Regions from separate parts of the Homo sapiens genome. Here region 1 is linked to region 2. A link means that fine-mapping ties the variant in region 2 to the expression of a gene that starts in the linked region. Tissue or cell type: whole blood. Region 2 holds a variant in brackets; the other region holds the start of a gene. All regions are shown on one strand. Distances are from middle to middle.

Region 1 (10,860 bases), 36 kb before region 2:
ACTGGGAGCACTATGAAGAGGTTTTCATTTCCTGAAACCAGAGGACAGAGAAAGCTGAGGGCTAGGACCAGTACTTCATCATAAGATTAGCAGTGACGTCAGGTTCTGGACATAATAGAGTAATAAAACAGGGTTTACCCTCTAGCCTAAAAATCTATACAAAACATACAAAAGTAATTTTTTAAATTTGGGCATAAGGAAATAAAAAGGAAAATTAGAAAGTATTTTGAACAGAGTTAAAAATTACAAGGAGGCTGAGGCAGGAGAATGGCGTGAACCCAGGAGGCAGAGCTTGCAGTAAGCTGAGATCGTGCCACTGCACTCCAGCCTGGGTGACAGAGCAAGACTCCGTCTCAAAAAAAAAAAAAAAAAAAAAAAAATTACACAGAAAAGCAACATATCAAAATTTGCAGGATACAGCTAAAACATTACTTAGAGGTAAATTTATAGCATTAAATACTTATAGTAGGAATAAAGAAAGGTCTCAAATATTGGCTTCCACTTTAAGGATCTAGAAAAAGAACAAATTAAACCCAAAATAAGCAGAAGAAAGTAAATAATGAAGATTATAACAGAAATCAATGAAATGAAAAGCAGAAAAAAATAGAGAAAAATTAATAAAAATTAAAGCTGGCTCTTTAAGAAAATAAAATTGGTAAACTTTCAGTCAGACTTATCAGCAAAAAAGAGAGAAGACACAAACTGCCAATATTAGGAGTGAGAGAGGTAACATCATATGTATTCTACAGATATTATAGGTAACTTTATGCCAATAAATTCAAGAACATCAATTAAACGGGTGAATCCCTTAAAAGACACAAATTACAAAAGCTCACTCAAGAATATATAGATGAGCTGAACAGCCCTATATCTACTGGATATGTAGTTAAAAACCTTTCTTTCCACAAATAAAACTATGGCACAGATGTCTCCTTTGATTAATTCTACCAAAAACTTAAGGGAAAATAATACCCCATATACACAAACTCTTGTAGAAAATTGAAGAGGAAATAATACTTCCCATTATATTCTATAAGGTCAGAATTACAACCAATCAAATGCATTACAAGAAAAGAAAACTACAGATCCATGTACCTCATGAACACATATGTAAAAATCCTAAGCAAAAAAATTTTGCAAATCAAATCCAACAACATAATAAAAAAATTATACATTATAACCAAGGGGGGAGTTATCCAATGTATACGAGGTTGATATAATGCTCAGAAATCCAAGTAACATACAATATTAATAAACTAACAAAGTGATAATGTCAGTAGAGACAAAACAGCAGTTGACAAAATCCACCATCCATTCCCAATTTTAAAAAGACAACAACTCGGAAAACCAGAAATAAAAAGGAACTCAACTTGACAAGGAGCATCCACAAAACACCTATAATCAACATTATATCGAGCAGAGAAAGACTCTTCCCGTAAGAATCAGAAAAAAAGGCCAGGAAATCTGTTCTCACCACTTCAACATTATACTGAAGGTTCTAGCAATAGGCAAGGAAAAACAAGGCATCCAGGTGGTAGAGAAGTAGAATTATTTCTATTTGCAGATGATATGACTGTCTACAGAGAATATCAAATGGAATTCATATAAAAAGCTAATTGAATAAGAAAGTTTGAAAAGATTGCAGAATATAAGATCTATATGAAAAAATCAAGTATACTTCTATATACTCAACACTTACAATGGCATCAAAAATATGAAGTACTTAGAGATAAATCAGAAAAATATGTGCAAAGTCTGTCCATTGAAAACTTCAAAAATATTGTAGACATTTTGTAATATCTAAATAAATGGAGATATATCCCTTGTTTTTGGGTCAGAAGATTCAATATTGTTAAGATACTCATTCTCCCCAAATCGAGCTACAGATTTAACACAATTCAGGTCAAAATCCCAGCAGACTTATTTTTGTACAAATTGACAAGATACTACTGAAATTCATATAGAAATGTAAAGGATCTGAATACAACTTTAAAAGATTAAAAAATTTAGAGGAAAAACACTACTGGATTTCAAGACTACTTATTACAAAGCTCCAGTAATCAAGACAGTGTGAAATTGGCACAGAGGAAGACAAATAAATCAATGAATCAGAAAAGAAAGTCGAGAACACACATATACAAGCCACTGGTTTATCCAAAGGTTCAATTCAATGGAGAGAGCATAGTCCTCAACAAGTGGGGCTGGTACTACTGGATTTCCATATTAAAAAAAAAAACACACACAACAACAATGTAATCTACATCTCACATCATATACAAAAATTGAGTCAAATGAATGATGGAATAGCATAAAACCAAAAATTATAAAATTTCTAGGAAAAAAAAGAGAAAAATCTATGTAAACTTAGCAAAGATTTCTTGGATATGACATCAAAAGCAAGATCTATAAAATAATAAATTAAACTTCAAAATTTAAATCTTCTCTTTCAAAATAATTAAGAGAAGGAAAATATAAGCCATAGGTGGGGAGAAAATACTTGCAAATCATGTATCTGATGACCTATATCCAGAATATATAGAAGACTCTTAAAACTCAAGGATAAGAAAACAAATCAATGTATAAAATGGGCAAAATATTTGAAGACATTTCACCAAAGAAGATCTATAGATGACAAATGTGTCCCAGTAATACAAAATGCATTCAATAGTATAAAATTTAAGAATAAAGACACTAGATCTTCTCTAAATCACAACACACACCAGATTAAATGCACAGAGAGGAACTAATTCATTTTCCTCTTGCCACCATCCCCAGGCTCAATATTGGTCCTCCTGAGCAGACACAAACATCAAAAATAGTGGTCTCTTCAACTTTACATGAGAATTTGCACCATGACCTCTCCTTTTCTCACCAAACTGTCTCTTACTCCTAAGAGACAATATAGCAAACATACACAAGAGTGCGGGCTCTGCTTACCATCCCAGATATACCACTTACTGTGTGGCACTGGGCACGCTGCTTAACCTCTTTGTGCTCCAGATTCCTCATCTGCAAAATGGAGGTGATGATACTAGTGTCTACCTCAAAAGATTTTTGTGAGAATTCAATGAGTACACACACAGAGAAACTTTCAGAACACTGACTAGAAGGCAATAAGCAGCTCAATAACTGTGAGTGAGCTATTATTATCATCCTTTCTCAGGAGCCCAAATTTCTCCTTTAGTTGAAGGAGGTTGAGAATTGTGGAAAGAGCCGCGAAAGCCGGGAAGCTCGTATCCTAGGTTCGACGTCTCTCCTGACTGACGGGATGTGACACTGGCTGAATCAATGTTCCCCTCCTCATCTCTAAAATGAACAGGTACACTAGATGAACTCTCGAGCACGGTCTCTCTAAAACCTGTACTAATGACATCCCTGCGTCTTTTTTTGGAAAATACAGGAAAGGCAGCGGAAAAAAGGGCACACAGGAGCAGTCAGGAGATGTTAGCAAGAGGCAGAAGGCCATTTATTGGGAAGCACGGGGGAGAGAGAACATGTAAAAAGGGTTTGTGGCACAGCAAAAGAGGACCACTTTCTCCACCCACATCTTTCAAATCTGTCCACTCGCCTCAGTCCTGTGGGCGGCAGTGCGGTGTAATGCAGGACCCAGAGGAAATCTTCGTGGGTTCTGTTCCCAGCCCTGATAGTTACTGTGTGATTTACTCTCTGTGCCTCACCAAAGAAATAGAGATGTCAGTAATCCTTCCCTGCCTTAAAAGGCTGCTGGGAAGATCAAACAAGAGAATGCAGGTAAAGCATGTTAACCAAGCCTGGCACATCAGAGCTACTCATTGGAGGAGTGCTTGTCATCTGTCCTGTTGCCACGACCTCAGTTCAGCCTACTATCTCCCACTCGAACTCCTATAGGGCCAAGCTATGCCCATGAACAAAACCTTTTGGTTTCTCTGTGGCTCTTTTGATAAATTTCTAAATCCTAAGTACAAAACCTGTATGAGCGGATCCCTGCCTACCTGTCAGGCCTTCCTTATCTCTTTGCTCTCCACTCCTTCTTTCTGTCTCACACCAGTTCCTGTCAGTGACAATTAGCCACCAAGAAGCCCTGCTCTTTCTCACCTCTGGGCAATTCACTGAGCTTTCCTGTTTCCTTTCCAGACAGCACTGCTTCCTCAGAGAAGCCTCCACCCACCTTGGGGTTAGGTCCCCTACCCACACCCTCAGGGCACAGGCACCCCTCTCTCTCCTGGCTGTAACCACTATACTTCTGTTTGTCTTCTCCCTCCCTAGGAGGGTAGGCCCACATCTGCCTCCTTCCTCACTGTATCCTGCATTCAATACCTGATTCAAGGTAGACACTCCGATGCAAGTCTGACAAGTTAATGATTTAACAAATCAAAGTGGGCACGACTCAGAGAAAGAGGGCAAAGGAAAATTCCCGACATAAAAAAGCGAAGAAGAAGGAGAAGGAGAAGGAGGAGAAGGAGCAGGAGGAGCAGGAGCAGAAGGAGCAGGAGGAGGAGGAGCAGGAGGAGGAGGAGCAGGAGGAGGAGGAGCAGGAGGAGGAGGAGCAGGAGGAGGAGGAGGAGGAGGAGAAGGAGGAGGAAGAGGAGGAGGAGAAGGAGAAGGAGGAGGAGGAGAAGGAGGAGGAGGAGAAGGAGGAGGAGAAGGAGGAGGAGGAGAAGGAGAAGAAGAAAAAAACCAACTAGGGTGAGACCAGGGGATGGGGAGACAGCCCTGAGAAGAGAGGAAGAAATATCAGTAGCTGATTTAGGAAAGGAGTTTCAACATTTACAAATCACTCCCCCCCGACCCCCACCTCTCCCACTTGCAGGCTGTCAGGTCTTCCAGGGCAGAAAGCCCATCATCTGGAGCAGTCTCTTGATTTAAAAAAAGTTAATTATGACATTTTTACAATGATAAGTGATCAATTAGGTAGAGCTGTACAAAACTGCCATATGGGGAGCTCAAAAACGTTGTCGATATCAAAATGGTTCATACAATATAAATAACTTACCCGCATCACCTTGCAGTTTGTTAGTATATTCTTAAAGAAACACGTTTACTACCGGGCGCAGTGGCTCACGCCTGTAATCGCAGCACTTTGAGAGGCCGAGGCGGGCGGATCACCTGAGGTCAGGAGTTCGAGACCAGCCTGGCCAACATGGCAAAACCCCGTCTCTACTAAGAATACAAAAATTAGCCTGGCGTGGTGGTGCACGCTGTAATCCCAGCTACTCAGGTGGCTGAGGCAGGAGAATTGCTTGAACCCGGGAGGCGGAGGCTGCAGTGGGCCGAGATCGCGCCGCTGCACTCCAGCCTGGGCGACAGAGCAAAACTCTTGTCTCAAACAAACAAACAAAAACACGTTTATAACACTTACTGTGTCTAAAACAGTAGTATGATTGCCATTATTTTGGAGATGAAGAAGCTGAGGCCCAAGGGGTGAAGTCACTCGCTCAAAGTCACAGGAAGAGGGAGGACTTCAACCCTGGCTCCAGAGTCGGAACCCTCCACCATTAGGCTACACTGCCTTCCGGAATGAGTCCGAAGATTGCGGCTTGGAGACAGTGACTGGCCCACGTTCACAGCCAGTAAGGAGCCACTTGGCCGGAACGTGGTGTGTCTGGCGCCAAAACCCCTGCACGTTCCCCGACCCCTTTCCTGGAGTCCAGTGCCTTTCTGCCTCTTCCTCCCCTTCCCACGGCCCCGCCCATTTTACAGATTAGGAACCTGAGCTGGAAAAGGCCAGGCTGTCCGGCCAGTCTGCAGAGGACCTGGTGCAGCCGGGGCTGCGGTGCGGAGGGCCGGGTGGGGTTAGGGTCCGCCCAGGCGCGGGGGAACCGACAGCGCAGGGCGGGAGCGGGCGGCGAGGATCCCACGAGACCCGGGACTACTTCCACAAGGGGAACGATCGAGGACGGAAGGTGGAGGGGGGCTTACTCCAGCCCATGGCGCCTCTCCAGTTCGCTGACCCCGCAAGCCGGACCCGGACCTCGAATGACGCTTTTCACCCTTCACCCCTGCTCCTCAGCGCGTCCCCGTCGGAATTCAGGAGCCATGGCAACGGGGACTCTACGGCGGCCGCGCGGGACCAAAACAAGCCGCGTTTCCTGAGCTCCGCGGAGCAAGCAGAGGAGACCGCAGTGAAGGGGCTCAGCAGACAGGGGTTCCCCAACCCAAACCCAGTCTTCGTCCTCGTCGCACTTCCGACTTGCCACAGACTGCTTCCCTCTCCCTGAATCAATGGTTTAGAGTGAACAAAGTATGAGGACGCTTCTCTTTTCTGTGCCTTCCAGGCTTGCCTTCCAGACCGCCTTTGACTTTTTCCTTTTTGTGTTTGATTTACAGCTTCCAGAGCCAACAGATCTGGATTTGGCCCCCAACTCTACCAGCGGCGTGACCTTACACTTCCTTCTCCTCAGTTTGCACATCTGTAAGATGAGAAATAACCTAAGAGGATCACTGTGAAGCTTTAATTAGATAATTTGAGTGAATGAAAGACACTATGAAAACAACAGGCTCACTATAAAGATTCGTTGTCGTTGTCATATTCCAGCTTTTTAAAGTCACTCTCCAACACTCGTTTCCGGCTAACAAGCTTTCCAGAAACGCCACCCATTACCCCCTCCATCAATTTCCCTATTCTCCACTCTCTTAATTGTAAAATGTAGGAAGTATATCTCCTACAGCCCCACACTCCCCTCACGTTTCCCCAGACCCTTCTCCAAAAGTGTGCAACGCGCCTTCTCCCATTCTAAACTAGGAAGCACATCAGCAAGCTCATTCACCCTCAGATCTTAGTGTTAGCACTTTAATGCGTTAGCTTCCCAAGAATCTTTAAAAGGTACCATTATTATGAAAGTAATTATTATTCTTTACTCCATTTGCAGAAAAAGGAGGGGGGCAATATGTAAAAGGTAAAACCTTCTCCCATCCCAGTCGTTTTAAACAGTATGGAGTGCGTGCTTCTTATCTTGATGTGTGTATTATGTTTGCATTTTAAAAGAAGATTCCTAGAGCAATGCTGAGTGCAAAGAAATTAATTTTTCTAGCGAATAGCTGTTAAGCATTTACAGCTGGCAATTATTAGAGTTTGCCAGGTAGAGACAAGGTCATGAACTTGGACAGAGAGGCAGGAAAGTCTAACAGAGTGAGGTGATGGGGGGAAGCAGAAACATCAGTTTGGCAATAAAGAGAGCTAGATAGAAGGGATCTTCGAACAGTAAGAATGAGAGATTAGATCGGGGGTAATGGGGGCCTTAAATGCCAGGCCAAAGGAACTGAACTGGAAGAGTGGGATTTCAGGCACTATTTCCCTGAATATTTGGATTTCCAAGGAGGCCTCCCAAAAGGCACTCAAACTATAAACTTACCTGACATCCACTATTATTTTTCTGAAAGCAGGTTAGTGTGAGGTGAACAGTATTAGCTCTGGCATTGGAAACATAGATTAAATACACAGATTTATTACTGTGTGGCATCAGACAGATGACTTCACCTTTGAAAGCTGAAACTTCTCTATTTCCACATGATGATGACAATATGGGTAAACATCTGTGGTCGTGCCACTGACACGCTGACACTGACACGTGACACTGAGCACTGATGTCTGATTACTCACAAAGGAGATGAAATGCTATTAGCAGCAGGCAAGTTTAGCAAATTCGCCTGTGCTTGAATTGTGCATTTTAACAACAAGGGGTTCATCAAGGCTAAAAAGGATCTAGCTTCTAGAAGGAAGCTACTACTGGGCAGAAAGATTAGTTTCTAAGCTGACAAAAGCATGAGGTCAGGCCTACTATAAAGGATCTCAGCTTGCAGTGAACTAGGATTGTGCCATTGCTCTCTAGCCTAGGTGACACAAAGAAACGATGTCTCTTAATAAAAATTAAAAAAAAATAATAAAGGATCTCAGCCTCTGGATCAGGAGACAAAGGGAGCCACTCCAGAACCGCAGAAAGTTCTCAAGAGCAATTGCAACCCAGGTATTTGACATGTTGGCTCTAAGCTTCTATCCTCACTCTCAGACCTACTCACTGTTGACTTAAAAAAAGAAACTGAGGTAAAATTAATATATATAGTCCCAGCTACTTGGGAGGCTGAGGTGGGAGTACTGCTTGAGCCCAGGAGTTCGAGGCTGCAGTGAGCCATGATCACTGCACTCCATCCTGGGCGACATAGTGAGACTCTGTGTCTAAAAAAATCGGGGTGCTGGTGCGTTGGGTGCCTGATGAGAGCCTGGTCTCCACTTCCAAGATGGTGCCTCATTGCTGCATTCTTCTGAGGAAAGGAGCCCTCTGTCCTCACATGACAGAAGGGATAGAAAAGGTGAAAAGGGGTGAACTCCATTTGGCAATCCCTTTTATAAGGGCATCTAATCCTATTCATGAGGGTGGAGCCCCTGTGACTCAATCACCTCCTTAAGGCTATGCCTCTTAATACTGCTACATTGGGGATTAAATTTCAACATGAATTTTGGAGGGGACAAAAACATTCAAACCACAGCAGCCCCTTTGACAACTAGAGAGTTCAAGAGTAAGATTGAGAGTTTAAGAGTGATGAGAAAGAAAATAAACTTTCTATCTGAGGAATGGGAGCACCCTTTAAATTATCAGGCCCAGAGAGGCACTGAAATGTGACAGCAGTCAAGTTCCAGTCCCCCATCCCCTTAAGCTAAGTAATCGTTTCAAAGCTGCCTGCCGTATGGACCCTAGACTGCGTGTTGCCACCAATGGCTATAAATAAACCTAACAATGCTGTACACTGGACATCATAACTCATTCCCTATAGTTTAACAATGTACAACCAATAACTAATCAATGTTATTTCTGTAAACCAGTGAGAATTCCTAACAAGCAACTTTCGTAGTCACCCGTTTCCTGATTAGTCCTTTTTTCTTTAAAACTGGAACCTCAACTTTGTTCTCCAGAGCACTTCCCAGTGTTTCCCAGGTTTCAGTCTTCAACCTTGGGACTATGTGTGTGCACCATCATGCCTGGCTAATATTTTTTTAGATTTTTTTATAGAGATAAGGTCTCACTGTGTTGCCCAGGCTGGTCTTGAACTCCTGGCCTCAAGAGATCCTCCCGCCTGGGCATCTTAAAGTGCTGAGATTACAGGTGTGAGCTACCGTGACTGGTGCCTAGTGCCCTTATATTGAACTTCCAATATTGGACTTTTATCAAGAATAAAAATAAATTTTTATATAAAAATAAATTTATAATTTATTAATATTTATAAGAATTTATAAGAATAAAAATAAATTTTTATTCTTGAGAAATGACTTAGTCTTAGATATTTCACTATAGAAGTAACAACAGACTAGGACATGTGCCTTGGATTTTTCCTGTGAAATTTTATATCTGTGGGACTCAAGTATTCTGTTCATTCATTCATAAGTGAATAAACAATTGGGCTGTCATTCTACTGGAGAAAAATCTCTAAGATACTTTTAAGCACTGTGCGCTCAACACTGCCCATGTACTTTGAAATTACTAACTCAATTCTCACAGTAACCCTCAAGCAGGTCATATTGTCATGAATATATTACAGATTAGGAAACTGAAGCCCAGTGATATTATTTTACTAAAGCATAGTGAATCAGAATTTTGTGCCTAAACCTTAATTCTATACTGCATCATTTTTTTAGACTGAGAGCTACTCGAGGGCAGAGAGGGAATTTTGTTATTGTTGTTTGTTTGTTTCCATCCCTGAATCCTAGCTCTCGCAAAATTCCTGACACTTATTGGGTGCTCAGTAAATATTTGTTGAATGATTGAATGGAGGAGTCAGTGAGCCAATTTCTTCAAGAGCTTGGCTGTCTTTGGTGTAAGGCCTACATCTTGTCACTTCAGTAGGATCACCAACCACAGAGGTGTCCCTGTTGTAAAGGAATCTAGCAGGCTTACCAGGAAGTGTACCTCATTCTCTGGTTATTGGACTGTTCTTTTTCTTGGGACCTTTTCACCAAAATCTAGGATAAGATCTGGTTCCAGGGGCAAGGTCTTGACAGATTGTCCTGACACTCTGGTGGAGCAGTGTTTGGCTCTGTGTTCCCACCCAATTCTCATCTTGTAATGCCCATAATTCCCACGTGTTGTGGGAGGGACCTGGTGGGAGGTAATTAAACCAGGGGGTGGGTCTTTCCCTTTCTGTTCTCGTGATAGTAAATGGATCTCACAAGACCAGATGGTTTTAAAAGTGGGAGTTTCTCCGCACAAGCTTTTCTCTTTGCCTGCTGACATCCACGTAAGACATGACTTGCTCTTCCTTGCCTTCTGCCATGATTGTGAGGCCTCCACAGCCACGTGGAGCTGTAAGTCCAGTTAAACCTCTTTCTTTTGGACATTGCCCAGTCTCAGGTATGTCTTTATCAGCAGCATGAAAACAGAATAATACAAGCAGAGAAAAGCTTTGGATGATAAAGCAGGGAAATCAGCAATATCTTCTTTGCAGTTTGTCATAGGCCAGGCTGGCTGGTTATGATGTGTCCTTCCTCAACCCAACATCACAGTCACTGTGTTTCTTAGAAACAGAGGACCCAGGGGGTATGAAGGACATGTGTACAATGTGCTGTGATTGTCACAGTCCACTGACAGGGAGGACAACTGGGAAATCACGATGTGACAGCTCTAAGTAAAGTCAAGTTCATTTCACTCAAAGTGGATGAAAGAGTTTAAAGAGTTGTGGTGTGTGTCTGTTTATGCAAATCATTGTTCCAAATAGACTTATTTCTTTGGCTGCTGGAACTATAGCAAGATGAGCTATGCTTCCTGAAAAAACAGGTGTGACATTTTGTGTATACAAGTAGAAAAAATAAATCTTAAAGAGAGTGTGTGTGCTTTTTTTTTATTCCAGTAACAGCAAAATAGTCCTCCTACTTCTTTTATGCTGGATAAATTC
Region 2 (10,860 bases):
TTAAAAAATCCTTGGTTCCTAAGAAGTGCCAGGTAATTATCAGGTGATCAATTATAATAATGATTGATTGGATTGATTGAACTCATGGATGAATGAGCTAGAACAACTACAAACCATTTATACTTTTTAGAGCAGCAAAATAATATCTCTAGTAAAAGGCGTTAAAAGACCTGTAAGTCAAAACAGTGATGTTCAATTCAGAAGTATTGAATCTCTAAAATTTATTAGGCATACATTTTTGGTAACTGAGTATTATGTACTGAATGTTTTTGTCCCTATAAGATTCATATGTTGAAGCTCTAATCCCCAATGTTATGGTATTTGGAGGTGGGGACTTTGGAAAATGATCTGGTTATGATAATGGGTCCTCCATGAATGGGGTTTGTTCTCTTATAAAAAGAGGAGGAGACACTGGATCTTTCTTTCCAACATGTGAAGCTGAAACAAGAAGACAGCCATCTGCAAACCAGGAAGTGAGCCCTCACCAGACACCAAATCAGCTGGCACCTCAATCTTGAACTTTGCAGCCTTTAGAATTCTGAAAAAAAATACATGTTTGTTGGGTAAGACACTGAATCTACAGTATTTTCTTATAGCAGTCTGAGCTATGACAGTGGGTGAGTGGAAATCCTCTACAGTCCTTTAGCATCTTCCATCAGTATTGGCCCCATGGTCTTACCCTTCTTGTTTCATGCAATGCCCTGTTTCCCCTATTAGAGAGCAAGTTTGTTGAGGGCAGGCACCATATTTTAAAACATCTGTACCTGACTCAGTTCTTACAGGTAGTAGGCTCTCAAAAAATAAATGGTGGTTAAATTTTTAAAGTTGAGTTATTATCTATATATCTCCCATACTTTAATTTACTTTCTCAATCTTTTTAGCATCTTGATGAGGTACAAAGTATATAGAGTTTGGAAGTTGGAGGGTGTGCCTTTTGGGAAATTTTATATATTAAACATGGTTCCTTCATATATATAAATGCTGATTATACATAGCATCCTGGCCACCTTTAAAAGATATTAAGAAATAAACTTTTTGTTTTGAAAATTAGCAAATACAGGAAAAGACTCAAGCATTCATCTCTCCTTTCCTATAAAATCTGAACCACTGGGCAATCAGACGGTAGATGTTTCCTTGCACAGATATATTCCCAATAAAGAAGATGTGATCAAACTGGAATATCATCCTTTTCAATCTCTAATTAATTAGATATCTAACCACTGATCAGAAATGGCTGCTGACAACACAAAATGACATAATGTCACTCTTGACAAAGAATATGACACCACCTAGGAAGTAATTGTTCCCCACAAAATTCAAAACAAAAAACGATTAAGCCTCTGTAATCAACTTTCAGTTGGCAAGAAATACAGAAGACTAAGGAAGACATTAAACTTTACCACAGACATGCGATCAGCAAAATTCCAATGGAGTAAAGTCTACAAGACAAATGATGCAGTTTTCAAAGAAACAAATTTCAAAGGTCAGGGAGGAAGAACTTATGCATTCAAAGAGACCCAATAGGCATATTAAACAAACAAATAAAACCAGGCAGAGCTATACTATAGTATTTAGAAACGTAATTGGTAATAAAAACTATAAAGCAAGATGCAGAGGTGATTATCATAAACTCAGCCATAGTGGTTATTCTGAAGGTGAGGATGTTGGAAGGGGCAGCTGGAGGGCTCCTGATACAGCTAGCAAGATTTCGTCTCTTTTTATTCTTCGGTTCTTAAAAGGGCATGCTATGGTTTGAATGTGACCTGAAAATTTCATATGTTGGAAACTTAATCCCCAGTGCAACAGTGTTGAGACATGGGACCTTAAAGAGGGGATTAGGTCATGAGGGCTCAGCCCTCATGAATGAATTAATGTTATTATTGTGAGAATAGATTAGTTATCTCGGGAGTAGGTTCCTGATAGACAGATGAGTTTGGCCCCTTTCCTCCCTTTGGCCTTCTCTCATCTTCTCACCTTCAGCCATGAGATGATGCAGCAAGAAGGCTCTTGCCAGATGCCAGCACCTTGATACTGGGTTTCACAGCTGCCAGAACTGTGAGAAATATGTTTCTTTTTAAAAATAAAGTACACAGTCTGTGATATTCTGGTACAGCAACACAAAACAGACTAAAACAAGGCATTTGCCTTATAATAATTTTTACACTATTTTCTGTTTTTCTCGTATTTGAACAATACAAGTTTTTAAAAACAGCTGTTCTGCCTATTTCACAGAATGAATGGTGCCTACATAAACATGACATTTAATAAGTACAGGAACCTCGTCTGTATTCTTCACCGTCATACTCCCAGGGGCTAGACTGGCTCTTGGCACATGGTTGGACTAAATATATATTTACTGAATGTATTAATAAATGAAACTATAAAATCAAATATATACATGAAATCATATTATGATGATGACTATTAAATTCAGCAAAGTTACAAATTCCCAAGGAGTGCATTCCAGATCACTGAGAATCTTTTGTGTACAGCAGACGTGGTTCTTTATAACAATATTGCCCGCTGCTAGACTACAATAACAAATAGGACCTGAAGAGGATTGAGGCTGGCCATTGGCAGAGAGCTGACATCCAGTGATGTACAAGTCTTCCTGGCAGCACACACATCACTAGTCAGGTCCTGTGCACCTCTGTCACAGATGGATCTGCAGGATATTAAGGTTATACTCTCCACTCCAAGTAGTGGGGCTCAAGAGCAACCATCTGGCTGGAGCCCACTGCTAGGGGACATGTCCTAAAGTCATTTTGCACAGCAACACACTTTATACACTTGGAGGAGAATCAGTGGATGTTGTGTTCATTATCTATCACCATGTAATGACATTAGCACAAGCTTAGCAGCTTAGAACACACATTAATCTCAGTTTCTGCAGAGGTCTTTAACTGCGTCCTCTGCAAGGTTGTAAAGAAGGTGTTGTCCTGCACCGGCCTCTCATCTGAAGCTTTCACTGGGGAAGGCCTTAGCCATTGGGTCCTGGAAGATATCTGCATTCCAGAACTCTGGAACCTATGACTAGATTACCTTATGTGGCAAAAGGACTTTGTAAATGGGATGAAGTTAAGGATTTTAAAATGGAAAGATTATTCTGGATTATCTGGGTGGGCCCCATGTAATTACAAAAATTATTTAAAGAAGGAGGCAAGATGTCTAAAGTCAGAAAAGGAGATGTGACCACAGAAGCAGAGGCTAGAGTGAAGTGGTTTGAAGATGGAGGAGGGGGCCAGGGGCCAGGGAATGCAAGCAGTCTCTAGGTTTTACCCTTGTAAGGCTCATTTTGGACTGACCCCCAAAACTGTAAGATAATAAATTTGCATTGTTTTAAGCCACCAAATCTGTGGTAACTTGTTACTGTAGCCATAGTAAGCTTATACAGCCGGGGAGAAAATGTCCTTGTCAACAATGAAGCATTATATGCACGTAAACAGTTAGTACTATTTCAGTATCTTACTTTGAAAAACATTATCATTTAAATCAAATGACTCTGTAGAAAAATGTGTGTTACACATAGACAAAGGAAATGTAGAAATTCTCAATGGAAGTTCTCCTAATAGTGTATTAAATGAAAGGCTCCATATGCATTTAGTTCTCCATTAAATTCATTTTAAATCCCACTTCAAAGCATTCATGCACGTGGATTGTGGATCACTTTGTGATCACTTAACCTACTTGTAAAAATGGCAAAGGCATGGGACATATCCCAGACCTACTAAATTATTACACGAGGCTATTTCAAATACAACTGTGGTAAGCTTACTAATGGTCCCCCAAAATAGCCAGGTTCTAATCATAGGAACCCATCAATGTTACCTTATATGAAAATAGGGGCCTTGAAGGTGTCATTAAGTCAAAGATTTTATCTTGGATTATCAGAGTGGATCCTAAATGTAGTCTCAAGTGTCCTTTAAAGAGGGAGGTAGAGGGAGATTTTACTGCAGAAGAGGAGAAGGTGATGTAATGATGGAAGTAAGAAATCAGAGTGGTGTGCTTTGGAGGTGGAGGAGGGGGCCACAAGCCAAGGAATACAGACAGCCACTGGAAGCTAAAAAAGGCAAGGAAATAGATTTTTCCCTAAAGCCTCCAGAGGGAAAATAACTCTGCTGACCTTTATTTTAGACTTCTGAGCTCCAGAACTGTAAAACAATAACTTTGTGTTGCCGTAAGCCACTTGGTTTAGGGTAATTTGTTAAGGCAGCAATAGGGAAATAATACAGTCTTCAATGAATGATGTTCTGCCATGATTTCTCAAAAAAATATATATATACATATATATATACACACACACAAATATAAATTTGCTGATGACTTCACTTATTTATTAGTTTATTTTTTAACCAAAAATGTACTAAATGCAAATTATATATAAAGTTATATTTTGGCATTATCATTTCGAGCAAAGACAATTTTCTGCATGTATGAGTTTTTACTCAGAGAGTATCACATAGAACAAATTTGAATTACAGGCCATATTTGCTTTGTGAACACGCACCAAGTGTGGGGGGTGGAAAGGGAACATCTACAGCCCTTGAGTCAAGGCTCAAGGGTACAACTGCACCATTTTCATGCATTTGAAAGCGCATTGGTGTTTTGCCTATATTTTGCCCTCAAGGCATTTTTCTGTGTTATATCTTTAAGTGACATTAAAGTGAAAGGTAATTACGAGCCCCAAGAAGATTAAAAACTTGGTTTAGAACGTGGTTCAAAAGAATATAACTTTCAGAAAATGCTTCTTTCCTGTCCATTTTCATATTAACCATCATCTACGGTTACCACCTAATATCAAGTCACTCCACTGAGGTGAATGACAAACTTTTGCAGCATTATATTTTATGTACAAATTGCATTTATTGTTATTCAAGTTGTCAGGTTGGTATTAGTTAGACAAACTTGCTCTCATTATTCTATTAAAGCAATTCAGCAAGAGATAGGTGCATGTGGCAGACCCAGAAATCTGGTTACAAGCTCCTCACAGAATTTCCTAATGAAAATTCAAGCTCGAGAACCACTGCCTTAAAGAATCATAGGGGGACATTTATTCCAGGCGGTCTCTTTTCCATCACATTCCCCGTCCTTTTCCTTTCAACTGCCGGTGTTTGCAAAGGGAAGGCAAATTAATATTATTTTCATGAGCATATTATAATTTTGATGGAAAAACTGAGATCATTTTAAAATCACATAGTCAAACTAAAATGGCTTTTTCTCCATTACTCGCTTACTCCCTTCCAATAAAACACTTGATTCCAAGTAGACTGCAAGTTGGACAATTTCC[A/G]GATATTCAGATGGAGGACATTCATCGAAGGCATTCCTAAATGGTTGTCAAATTTTGACAAACCTAGATTGGAGAAATAAGAAAAGAAATGCATAATTCATCCCCATGCACAGGAAATGCAGTATCTAATCACTGCATACCCATTTGCGCATATATAAGCACACACCCACACCCATACCCACAACGGGCCTGAATTATCACAACTAGGAAGAGTGCAGCCTCAACTAAGGGTACTTTTCGTTTTTGCTTTTATCCCAGCAGTTCTTAGTGCTCTCCTTTTTGTCTGAAAGACTATAGAGGTTTTGACCCCTCAGCCCAGCGTGGTACTTAGTTAACTAATATTTCCTATGGTTTCCTCTTCCCACCTGCCCTTATGGCATTTTTCTGTATTATATCAGTATTTTAATTGCACTTTAAGTGAAAGGTAATCATGATCCTCAAGAAGATTAAAAACTTGGTAAAGAAAATGGCTCAAAAGAATACACCTTCCAGAAAATTGCTCTCTCCTGCCCCGTAGAACAGCCTGTAGGGTAACAGGTGGATTTTCCCCATATTTTTATTCCCTAAAGTTTATTCACTCATTCATTAAGTATACGAACATACATTCCTTCATTTAAGAGAGAACAGATGTGACCCATTTTGTTACTATGAAATCATAAGTGTGCAAAACGTGTACCGCTGATGCTAACACATCATTACTAACATGAGATACCTGTGCTGACCTTCATTTGCAAGGGACACTCAGGCCAGTGGTGGACAAGACAGATAGTCCCTATCTTCACAGGCTTTAAATTTAATCAGGAAAGCAGTTGACTAAGAATTTCATTATGTTATGAAAAGGGATATGATGTGAGCCGTGTGAGGTGCTAAAGAGGCACCTAATCTAATCTAACTTGCACAGTGCAGGATGGGTGTGTGTGTTGGGGGGAGGGTGCTGCATTAATATTTGTTGAACTGAATTCAGTTCCTTAGATTCTCATCATTGATTGTTAGAGGAGACTTATGAGTCATTCTTGATTCTCGATATTAATAACCATATCTTTGGTTTATTAGTTTCTCGGTATGTTTATATAAGAAGGAGAGGGTTGCAAAATCTTTAATATACACGCAGAGCTCTTGGCTTTCAAGGAAGTACTTCAAGAAATGATGCAGTAAATACATTAAATTTAATGAATATGTACAGAGTACATACTATTTTCAAGGCTTTGGTTGTAGATACAAAAATGAAGTCAATAGTCCTTGTTTTCACAGGTCTTAAATGCAAATGTGTGTGTATATGAGGCTGGTGGGCAGGAAACAGGAAAAAATGGAGTTGGGAACAAGAGAAGAACAAGTCAAAGTATGTACACAAATAATCAAAGAAAGGATCTCCTTCCATAAATGAGTCAGAAGATAAAAGTGTTTGTTCAGGATAGAAATATTGTCCTGATGTAATTTCTTTTGGGAGAGAACAAACAATGAGCTCAGAACAATGGGAAGTTCTGAGAAAACAGCAGGTGATATAACCCCTGCAGATCGGATATTGGCTCTTCCAGGAGGCCCTCCCTGAACATACTCCCCACTCCTCTTAGTCTGGGAAACTGACCTCCTTGTGCTCCCCCTGGCTCCTGTACTAACCTGATATTTGCACTTACCATATTAAAAGGCAACTTCACCTTGCCCCTTACAAGTCCTTTACTCTAATGAGATGATAAAATCTCAAAGCCAGCCACATGCTGGGGCATTCACACCCTGGTACCTAGTGACTGTGTCTAACCCATGGTAGACACTTCATTAACAGCAACTGAGCTAAACTTGGTACCCCATACCGTATAGAACATATTGTAAATTCTTAATAAAGATTTGGTAACTTAGGTGGTGCCACTTTAGAAATCAATAATTGTTTTAAACAAATGTCATTAACTCCTTTTTCTTTTTTCTTTTTTCTTTTTCTTTTTGTTTTTAAGACAAATTCTCTCTCTGTAGCCCAGGCTGAAGTGCAGTGGCATGGGCACAATCACAGCTCACTGCAGCCTCCACCTCCCAGGCTCAAGCAATTCCTCCATCTTAGTCTCCCCAGTAGCTGCAACTGCAGGTGCGCATCAGCACACCCAGCTAATTTTGTCTATTTTTCGTAGGTCTCACTATGTTGCTCAGGCTGGTCTAGAACTCCTGGACTCAAGGAAGTCTCCTGCCTCAGCTTCCCAAAGTGCTGAGATTACAGGTGTGAGCCACCACACCCAGCCTTGTCATTAATTTCAAGGGCTAAATTATAAGGATTTCTTGAGCTACCCAGAGATTCGATTTTCTAAATATCAGGTTGAATAAAACTTAGCTGTATGTGCACCCCCAGAAACCAGAAATACCCAGAAATTATGGGAAGCATCACTCAAAATGTCAGTAAGTCAATATTGGCTAGAATCCTAACCAAAATAAATTTTCACTAAACCCCATTGTGATTTCAGAATTAGCGCAGATTTTGTAAGAGTGCCATGGTGAATTACAGACCTCAGTCTCCAAGCCATGTGAGTTTGCCTCTGGCAGCCATATTGAAGTGAAGGTAATTAACACAGTCCATCGTGCAATAGGATGGTGCTATCCAGACTGTTTGAAATTCTATGGGCATCCCAACCAGACCCCAGTAACCCTTTGAAATATGCTGAACCATGGCAGTTAACACACAAGGGGATCATTAAATGAATAAGAGAAGGCACAGAAATCACAGTTTGTAACTGAGATCATTTCATGGGCAGTTTGCCAGCTATTTGGGAACGTCTAACACAAAGGTTTCTTCAGATGAGGTATTTATAAAGTGTAGTGCTATGAATCTACAAAATCACTTTAAAAATTATTTTAAATGACATCGCCTTTCAAATTATTTTCTAAGTCCTGTGCTTAACAATTATTTTGATGTAAAAATTTAGGAGGCAGGATGATAATACTATTAAATTTTAGCAGTAACAGAAAGTAGTCTTCAGGACGAATGATCAGGATGTTTCCTGTCATTGCCATCTACTATGCAGCAGAAACCATTCTCAGATATCAAATTATGATCACCTTGGTCCAGACAATAATGATGACACAGGCAACACTTACCGAGCACAGGCAGTGGTTTTGAAATAGCTGGCAAGGCTGAGAAACAATGATTTCACATCTTGAGTGAAACAGAGAAAATATTTTAAAATCATTTTAAAGTGACCAAAATTGGAATGAAATACAGGCATCATTGCAGTAATCTGGGAAACAGTTACTTACAAGCTACAGTTATCATCAATGAGCATGTGAAGACACTGGCTAATATTTCTCCCATAAACCATCTGAAACAACAAGATTGCTCTGATTTAGCATACTAATTGTGCATTTCCAACCTGTGTGATTTTTTTAGACTTACTATAGAATTATGATTTCAAGGTTTACTATGAAACTACAGTAATAAAGACAGTGGTATTGGAAAATGGACAGACATACAGATCAATGAAAGAGAGTAGACAGCCCAGAAGTAGACTTATGCAGATAGAGTAAACTGATTTTAATTGAGGCGCAGAAGCATTCAAAGGAGAACATACCGTCTTTTCAACCAATGGTGTTGAAACAATTGGATATTTACATGCAAAAAAATGAACCTCCACATGTATAACATACCTTACACAAAATTTAACTCAAAATGGGTCATAGACCAAAAATGTAGATCGTAAAACTGTAAAACTTCTAGAAGAAAACATGGGGGAATATCAATATGACCTTGCATTTGGCAATGAGTTTTAAAATGCAATACCAAATGCACAATCCATGAAAGAAGAGAAAGGAATAATTGGACTTTATCAAAATGTAAAACTTCTGCACTGTGAAAGACACTGCTAAGAGAATGAAAAGACAAGGCGCAGTCTGTGAGAAAATATTTGCAAATTATGTATCTAATCAAGGACTTCTATCCATAATATATAAAGAACTCTCAAAATTCAATAATAAGAAAATAAGCAACCCACTTGAAAAAATGAGCAAAAGATCTGAACAGACACTTCACCAAAGAATATATACAAATGTCAATAAGTATAAAAACAGATGTTCAACATCATTCCTCATTACAGTAATGCAAATTAAAACAGCGAGATATCACTGCATACCTAGTAGAATGGCTAAAACCCAAACAACTGGCAATACAAAATGCTGGGAGGATGCAGAGCAACAGAAACTCTCATTCATTGCAGTTAAGAATGAAAAGAGTGCAGCAGGGCGCGGTGCTCATGCCTGTAATCCCAGCACTTTGGGAGGCCGAGGCGGGCGGATCACGAGGTCAGGAGATTGAGACCGTCCTGGCTAACACGGTGAAACCCTGTCTCCACTAAAAATGCAAAAAAAAAAATAGCCGGGCGTGGTGGCGGGCGCCTGTAGTCCCAGCTACTTGGAAGGCTGAGGCAGGAGAATGGCGTGAACCCGGGAGGCGGAGCTTGCAGTGAGCCGAGGTCACGCCACTGCACTCCAGCCTGGGCGACAGAGCAAGACTCCGTCTCAAAAAAAAAAAAAAAAAAAAAAAAAAGAATGAAAAGTGTGCAAACAGTTGGAAGATAGTTTGGCCCTTGCTTACAAAGTTAAACATAGACTTACCATATAACCCAACAGCTTCACTTGCTTACAAATTTAAACTTAGACTTACCATATAACCCAACAGTTGCACCCCTTGGTATTAATTCAACTGAGGTGAATTCTGTGTCTGTACAAAAATCTGCATATGATTCTTTGTAGAAGCTTTATTCAAAGTGGTCAAAAACTGGAAGCAACCAAGACACCCTTCAATAGGTGAATGTATAAACAAACTGTGGTACATCCATACAATGGAATATGATTCAGCAACAAAAAGGAATGAGCTAATTGTAGAATAGCACATTTGTTATTGCTGTGGGTTAGTATATTTTCTTAGAGGAGGTGAATAGTTTTCTGTATTAATCATATACAAGCAAAATATTCCGTGAGAGAAATAATTTGTTCTGACAAAACAAGAAATTAAGGGAAGACAGAAATGGTGGGAAAAACTGAAGTCCCATAAGCGATGGCAGCAGCAGCCCATCTGGAGTGGCTGCTGCAAAGACGCCAGCTGCAGCAGGGGAGGCCTGGCCAGGGTTGTGGGCTTCGCAGAGCCCGAGGGAGCCGAGAACAGGAGGGAGCCCGGAACTGGAGGGGGCCCCGCCCTCCCAGGTGCAGCTGCAGCCGCTCAGCCATGGCTCTGAACCCAGGCATCCCTGCACTCTTGGGGGCCTTGGAAGCCCCCCTGTGCCTGCAGGCTTGGAAGCGCCTGCTCCTGCCCCTGGCCTCTCCCTGCTCCTGTTGCCCGCTCTGATTTCGGAGCAAAGTTGTGGCTAGGCCCGGGTGCTATCGCAACCTAGCAGTGACCAGACCCCACATTTGTTTGCTCACACGCCCCTCACCACTCCACACCTTGCTTGTAAAGGCTCAATATATTTCTGAATCAGAGTCATGGCAGTGAAGAGATGGAGATCTAGATCACCCACACTGTATATTCCATAGCATATTTTGTCTGTAAAAAAGCTACTCAGACCAGTCAGACCTAACACCCCCTTTCAAAAACAAGCATTTCA

The links. PIP is the estimated chance that this variant, and not a neighbour inherited with it, causes the effect.
Region 1: it holds the start of DNAAF11, and the variant in region 2 is fine-mapped to the expression of DNAAF11 in whole blood (TOPMed, PIP above 0.99).

Annotation. Positions count from the first base shown.
Region 1 is chr8:132,669,586-132,680,445 of GRCh38, forward strand. DNAAF11 (dynein axonemal assembly factor 11) reads right to left here and starts at 5,960. Exons shown (of 12, transcript NM_012472.6): 1 at 5,899-5,960. The coding sequence starts at 5,908. It overlaps LOC105375767 (a long non-coding RNA gene), which reads left to right and starts at 6,045. Exons shown (of 2, transcript XR_928665.4): 1 at 6,045-6,220; 2 at 6,307-6,473.
Region 2 is chr8:132,705,633-132,716,492 of GRCh38, forward strand. It overlaps TMEM71 (transmembrane protein 71), which reads right to left. Exons shown (of 10, transcript NM_001382403.1): 8 at 8,522-8,583; 9 at 8,363-8,420; 10 at 4,309-5,350. The coding sequence ends at 5,335. Among named protein-coding and RNA genes, the nearest start is that of DNAAF11, 36 kb to the left of the region's middle. The variant A/G (reference allele first, on the strand shown) is at 5,288.